2 separate regions of the Homo sapiens genome follow, and region 2 is reported to be linked to region 1. Evidence: microRNA targets listed by miRTarBase, many of them from high-throughput screens and not tested one by one. Region 1 holds a microRNA gene; the other region holds the end of a gene's coding sequence.
The links. Region 1 holds the annotated microRNA hsa-miR-1909-3p (CGCAGGGGCCGGGUGCUCACCG, at 1,696-1,717, shown strand). A microRNA usually pairs through its seed, bases 2 to 8, with sites in the 3' UTR of a target mRNA and lowers its output. Matches are read on the target gene's strand: a 7mer-m8 pairs with bases 2 to 8, a 7mer-A1 pairs with bases 2 to 7 and ends in A, and an 8mer does both.

Region 1 (3,401 bases):
AGTCCTCACTCCCTAGTAGGGCTCGGTAGATGCAGGTGGTCAGTGCCCCGGGGGCTGTGGAGTGGGCCTGGCCGGGCCCTGACTGTGTGTCTGTGTCCCCTGCAGTGGCCGGAGGCTGGGAGACCCAGTACATGTGCTGCTCGGCTGCCGCCGGCTCTGTCGGCTGCCAAGTCGCAAAGGTGAGCCCTGGCGTCCCAGTCCCCTCTGCCTGTTCTCAACAGACTTCTGCCTCCCCATCGTTGGTGTGGGGTCTCGGGACACAGCACAGTCCTGGGCTCAGGGTCTGGGCCCCCGGGCAGCCTTTCTTGTGTTACCCAGAGAACGTAGCACCCGTAGGCCCCAGGCCCTGTCCCTGGCCACTTCCCATCCTGGGAAGCCGTCCTCCCTGTGTCTTCTTGGCAAGCCCCCTTCCCCACCTGCTCACCAGGGTCCCAACCAGTGAATGGGCGTGATGGATGGATAGGATGGTCCCGAAGGGCTCAGAGATGTGCTGCTGCTGCCACCCCCGCCCCCACTGCACCCCGAAGCTGCCCTCACCTGCCTTCTCCACCCCCAGCAACACGTGCAGGATGGCCGGAAGGAGCGCCTTGAGGGCTTCGTGAAGACCTTTGAGAAAGAGCTCTCAGGAGACACCCACCCGGGGATCTACGCCCTGGACTGCGAGATGGTGAGGCTGTTCTCTGCCCAGCGTCGGGTTCAGGATTGGGGAGGACCTGGCCTGGTGCGGCCGCCCCATCTGGCCCCATCTGGGCCTGGCTCACCGGCCAGCGCTCAGGGTTTCTCTCGCAGCACCGGTGCCTGTGGCTCCTGCCCTGGACCAACACCCCATACTTCCCAGCAGAGCCAAGCACACCGGGCACTGGGCCCCGGCTCTGCCTCTGAATGGGAGGCAGGAGGGCTTTGCGAAAGGGGGTTACTGAGGTCACACCCCACTCGGCCTCTCCTAGAAGTCCCACAGAGTCTCTGGTCACTGCCTCTGCCTGGAGGGGCTCTGGAGACTCAAAGGGGCAGGGAAGGGGAGGGAGGGAGGCCGGTGCCTGGGACACATCTGAGGTGCATCCCTTGCCCGCAGTCCTACACCACATATGGCCTGGAGCTGACGCGCGTCACGGTGGTCGACACGGACGTGCACGTGGTTTATGACACCTTCGTGAAGCCTGACAACGAGATCGTGGACTACAACACCAGGTGTGGCCAGTGCCCTCCACGAGCTGGGAGCCCTCCCAGCCGCCTCTCCCCAGGGACCCACCCTCCCCCGCCCCACCAGCCAGTGCTTCCAGGCTGAGCCCTGGTGCCCCTCCTGCCCGTTCCCCCAGGTTTTCGGGGGTGACGGAGGCTGACCTTGCCGACACAAGTGTCACGCTGCGTGACGTCCAGGCCGTTCTGCTGAGCATGTTCAGCGCTGACACCATCCTCATCGGACACAGCCTGGAGAGCGACCTCCTGGCCCTGAAGGTGCCCTGCCGGCCCGGGTCCCGCGCGGTTCTCCAGCAGGACCTGCGCAGGCCCCACGTGCGCTGATCTCTGCCGCTGCCCACAGGTCATCCACAGCACCGTGGTGGACACGTCTGTGCTCTTCCCCCACCGCCTGGGCCTCCCCTACAAGCGGTCCCTGCGGAACCTCATGGCCGACTACCTCAGACAGATCATCCAGGACAATGGTGAGTGCCGGTGCCTGCCCTGGGGCCGTCCCTGCGCAGGGGCCGGGTGCTCACCGCATCTGCCCCGCAGTGGATGGGCACAGCTCCAGCGAGGACGCCGGCGCCTGCATGCACCTGGTGATCTGGAAGGTTCGAGAAGACGCCAAGACCAAGCGATGACGCCTGCCCGCCTCCCACCCGCCTCTCCTGCCGTCCCGCTGGTCCTTAGCCCCATGCCTCTTCCAAAACAGTGCAATAAATCTCCGGTAACCCGTCCACCTGGCCGAGGCAGCCCAGAGCAGCGGGATGAGCTGGCGGCCAGAGAACGCCCAGCCCAGCCCACCCCCGCTCACGTCCTGCCGCACCCCTCCGCCGGTCCCCACCCTCTGCCCCCCAGCCCTCTGGCGTCTCTAGAAACTGCTGCTGATGGAGACCAGGACAGAGCCCGCCCCCACCCGGCCCGCAGCCCCTCCTGCCCCTCCTGCCAGGCCCTCCCTCCCGGGTGGTGGCCGGCACCTCTGCTCCTCACGTGGGTCGCGGGGCGGGCTTGTCCCAGGTTTGTTTGAGACAGTCTTTTTTTATTTTGTATTGTTATTTTTATTATTTTTAATTTAAACCTGATGACTTGCACAGCATCTTTCCCACCGGGAAGAGCGGGCCTGCTGCCTTCCCTCCTGCGGGGTGGGGGTGGGACAGACCCCAGTGGGGGCCAGGGCCACACTCAGCGCAGTGTGGGCTGGACCCGCCTCTGTGCTCCAGGGGCTGGCCGGTCTTCGGGGGCGCCGGCTTCCACCACTCGCCGCCCCACCCCTGCACTCCGTGACCTCTGAGAACCCAGCTGGCCCCTCGTTAGCCCCAGGGTCTGCCGTCTAGAGGGAGCCCACCGGCCTCCGGACACTGTCTTCCCGCTAGAGCCCCGTCCTCCTCTGCGGGGCTCTCCGGACCCCCTTCCCCCTCACCTCCAGGCAGGGACAGAATAAATGTTTGTATGGATTTTAGATTTTGTGGTGGTCTTGGTCTTGGTGCCTGGTGAGGCCTCTGCATGTGCCCCGGGGAGGCCACTGTCCCTGCAGCCGGGACTGATTCTCTTCCCATCAACGCAGAGAAAACAGAGCAGTGAAACTTTCCCTCACAAAAGCTGGCCCAGGGCTGGCTCCCCCAGGGCTGGGCCACACCTGCTGTGGGGTCCCAGTTCCAGCCCCAGATCATGGGCCACCATCCTGCAGCTTCTAGTGCCTCTCGGACAGTGGGTGGTGTCCCCAGCCCTGTGTGGAGCTGGGCCCTGTGCACAGAGCTGGCTTCCCTCTCTGCCCTGCCCAGAGATAGGGACTGCACACAGATGGTGAGAGGGGGTTAAAGAGACTGGGAGCTGCTGTGTGTTGCCCGTCAAAGGATGGAGTGCAGACACGGAAAGCTGCTCCGGCCCTTGCCAGGAAACGCCACACATTGTGTAGTGCACGCACGTCTCGGGCAACTGTGGTTGCATCGGGACCCCATTTGGAAATGGGAGGCCCAGGGGTGTTTAGGCCCCACTTTTTATTGACCTCAAGTAGAAAAAGTGATGAGCCTTGCGGGACAGGACCCAGCAGCTGGGGGCAGGTTGCCTGGAGTGGGTTTCCTGCCACCCTGGTCTTGGGCTTCTGCTGAAGGGCAAGGCCAAGGGCACAGGTCCCGGGATGAGGACGTGGGGGCCCTCCCCAGAGGACTCCATCCCAAGGCTCCCTTCCCGGTTCTGGGCTCTGCATCTCTCCAGGGCCCTCC
Region 2 (3,401 bases), not on the chromosome of region 1:
TACAAGGATTCCTGAGAAGCTGAGGTTAATGAATGAGATTGATCAGGAGTGAGGTATCAAAGGGATATTGTCATTCTCTGGAGGGCCAATCGGTGCTTAGCATCTACAAAGTATACCTTGGCACAGTGTTATCTGATTTCTCTAATTTATTCTCTGAAGTAGCACCTTAACACTGGCTCATCTGTCTAAAATCAAGAACAAAGCCTAGAAGAAACACAAAAGCAAACTTGAGACACCCTCCTTATCGCTACTGCACTATGAAATATGACCAAACCTTTCATTGTCATTAAATACCAGAAATAGTAACATTTTCTGTTTTGCAAACTTTAGTGGGGAAGGACAACTAATAAGACAGGTATTGGACCAGAAATGTACAGATAAGAACTTTGATTTCTACACAATATACAGGGTAGTCAAGCCAAATAGTCTCATATGAAGGAATCAGTGACATGGAAAGGACAAAATATGTGGTTACTGAGCCATTACTATGATACAACATACCCCAGAAAGATTTTTTTCTTTTTCATTAAAATGCTAGAGTGATCTATTCACAAGGAGAAACTCTAGCGACTGCCTTGATTATTTTAAAGATAAAAATAAAATAACCCTTGGCTACCCAGTTCTGAGCAAAAAAAAGAATTTCAGATTTTGGAAAGACAAGAACTATGGGTAAAAACGTCCTAGAATCAGGGATCAGCAACTCTTAAAATGAGGTACACTGAAGTGTTTGGGGGTAGAGGGTTGGTGGGAATATGCAGAATGACCGCTGATTCTGGGCTGGAAGGATGATGAGAAGTGCTAGGAACAGAGCTATAAAATCATCCAGGCTGAACTCTTACCCCGGCAGTGAAATCTCACTGCCGTAGGCATCCAGTGTGGAAATGGAGGCATGGCAGCAGCAACTGGGCCACATGGCAAAGGAAATGGCTGTGTGTCACCTCTGGTCCATGTGTTGTGAGACTGCTGAGCCTTGGTTTACAATTTAACTAGCCCTGGGAGTTATTTTTTTTTGTAGTAGGAATGATTAACCAGGAGCAGCGCTCAATCCCAAACAGAGGATTTGGTACTAAGGAGTAAGAAGTGGAACAGAATGGAGGGGGAGTAATTGCACACAGGTAAAACTACAGAAAATGAAATAGTGGTTGGAATGATGATGGTGGCTCTGTAATTCCACCAAGTGTCCCCAGAGTGTGATTTTTTTTTAACTGCAATAAAGGTGGTATGAAATTGAGACAGGCACCTTTTCAATTGGATACAAGCACCTTTGGTGTCACCAGGCCTTGTCCATACCCCTGTGTCTTAGGATGGCTCTGCATTTTATTTAGAATTCTAAGGACTCTTGAGGGAGTCACAGCTGCCTATCCTGTTCCAACACCTTGAATATATTTGGAAGCATCCCAAGCCTAATTCATGATCATGGGGACAACACACTGGCCTGTTACACATACTTATCGCTGGGAGGTACAATGAGTGTCCAGTTATTTTAGTACTGGTGGTCTTTACAAAGGAATGCATGAGGATGCATATGCAGTTCTGAGTCTTCCCTGGTTTACCAGTATGCAGTCTAGACTTGGTTCCCTTTGCTGTTTTTACATATTCCAGAAGCCTAAAGCACCATCATTCATGGAGGTGGCATCTGGGTAAGAGAATTAGTTAGGACCTCACAAACATGTGAAACTCCTAGTCATTGACTTTGCTTAGAAGTTTACTAATTATTCATTTCAAGGAAGCTGGAAGAAATCATTCCTTGCTACTAACAAATTCACGGCAAAGTCCTTGTCTACCAGCTAACAAATGCCACCTGGAAAATTACCGTTTTTGCAGACAAGGAGAAAGCTCTATAACTTATCTTTGTGCACTTCAAAAGAGTACCAGCAACAAGCAAGCTATAAAAGTCAATCTCTCTAAATTCATTTAGAAGAGATTAACCAAAGCAGCATTGTCTTATAATCAGAAATTAAAATTAACATAAACATACACACATAACAAACTAATAATGCTAAATATTGTAACAGGAACAAGGATAACATTTGAACTGAATCTTCACAGTCTAGAAAATACCATTACTCTTTTCCTTCTGGCTTTCCTTTCTCTGGTTTGAAAAGCAAAGCCCCTTAGTTTACACTTCGTCTTCCAGTAACAACAGTTAGATCCCAAAAGAGTGACTTTTTCGTCGGTTTCCTACAGGTTATAGGTCAGGACGGTTGGAATTTCTCTTGCATAGTTTTCAGTGATTGCATATTGGCTAACTACTTTTTAAGTTAAAAAAATCTTTTAAAAAGCAAATATAATTAAACCATAGCAATCTTATTTATTCTTTCATGATATCTTCCTAATGTAACATCATGGAAGCCTAACTATAATTTCTCCTAAAGAGAAAATTAATTTCCAGAGATTATGTAGTGCAACTGGTTAACTTGTAGGAAAGAGACAACACACTAATGTGACTTCACCATCCAAATATGGAAAATGTGTTTTGGGTACCCAGTTAATACAACATATCCATGGTCTGTAATGTCCTTCCCGCTTTACATCCAGAACTCTATGATTCTAGTTGAAGAGAATGGAATCAGGATCTTGGTTCGCCATCTGTGCTATATGCTTTAACACATCCTTTTTGGTAATGATTCCAAGCAATCGCCTAAAAGACAAACACAATACAAAAAAACAAAAATAAATCTGTAGTTAAAATAGCATTCCCAAAGGTGATACTTGTCCTCCTCAGTCCTTTTCAACTTTGTCTTTGATCACTAGCTGCCCTTTCAGTATGAGATCACAGGAGTAGGACATGTGCCCCAGGCAAATAGGATGATGTGTGGATTCCTAAATGTATGCAAGTGTTTCTACCTCTAGGTCTCAGACCCTGCGATTTCCTCTGGTTTAAATACTCTTCGCTACATATCTGAATCTTATCTACTGCAGCCCAGTTCAAACGCCCCTATTCCAGAGCACCTTCCCTGATTCTATGAGCCAGCAGGAACTCTGCCCTCCTCACAGCAACAGCATGCACATTCTTTGCAGGCCTCCTCAGTGGCACTTGTCCTCTTTGCTATTGTACTATAACCACTGCTAGGTTCTTGCCTTCCTTAAAACACTGTCTGCTCCTTGAGGGCACAGAAGGGTCTTATTAATTTTTGTGTCTCCCTGGAATCCAGTGGAGTACCTTCTTACATGGAGCAGGGATTCAGCAGATGTTGAATGAACCAGTTAGGGAACTCCCCTTACTGATTTAAATCCTGCAAGGCATCTGTTACACCATTTAGAAATTTCAGATGTGAAATTCTTATATAATTGCTGGATTAACGTAGCATGTTTGGGAAAAAAATCCACCCCTCTCCTCAACCTCCTTTCTTTTCCAATAAAAATAGAAGGGTTCCCTTTACTGGATAAGAACTATCCCA

Region 2: miRTarBase lists CLCN5 as a target of hsa-miR-1909-3p. The part of its 3' UTR that is shown has no 7-base or 8-base seed match.

What each region holds. Positions count from the first base shown.
Region 1 is chr19:1,814,485-1,817,885 of GRCh38, reverse strand. It overlaps MIR1909 (microRNA 1909), which reads left to right and starts at 1,648; the gene lies at 1,648-1,727. REXO1 (RNA exonuclease 1 homolog) reads left to right here. Exons shown (of 16, transcript NM_020695.4): 11 at 106-179; 12 at 557-667; 13 at 1,073-1,188; 14 at 1,317-1,455; 15 at 1,541-1,661; 16 at 1,732-2,638. The coding sequence ends at 1,820.
Region 2 is chrX:50,091,369-50,094,769 of GRCh38, reverse strand. It overlaps CLCN5 (chloride voltage-gated channel 5), which reads right to left. Exons shown (of 15, transcript NM_001127898.4): 15 at 1-2,641. The coding sequence ends at 2,551. Among named protein-coding and RNA genes, the nearest start is that of MIR502, 78 kb to the right of the region's middle.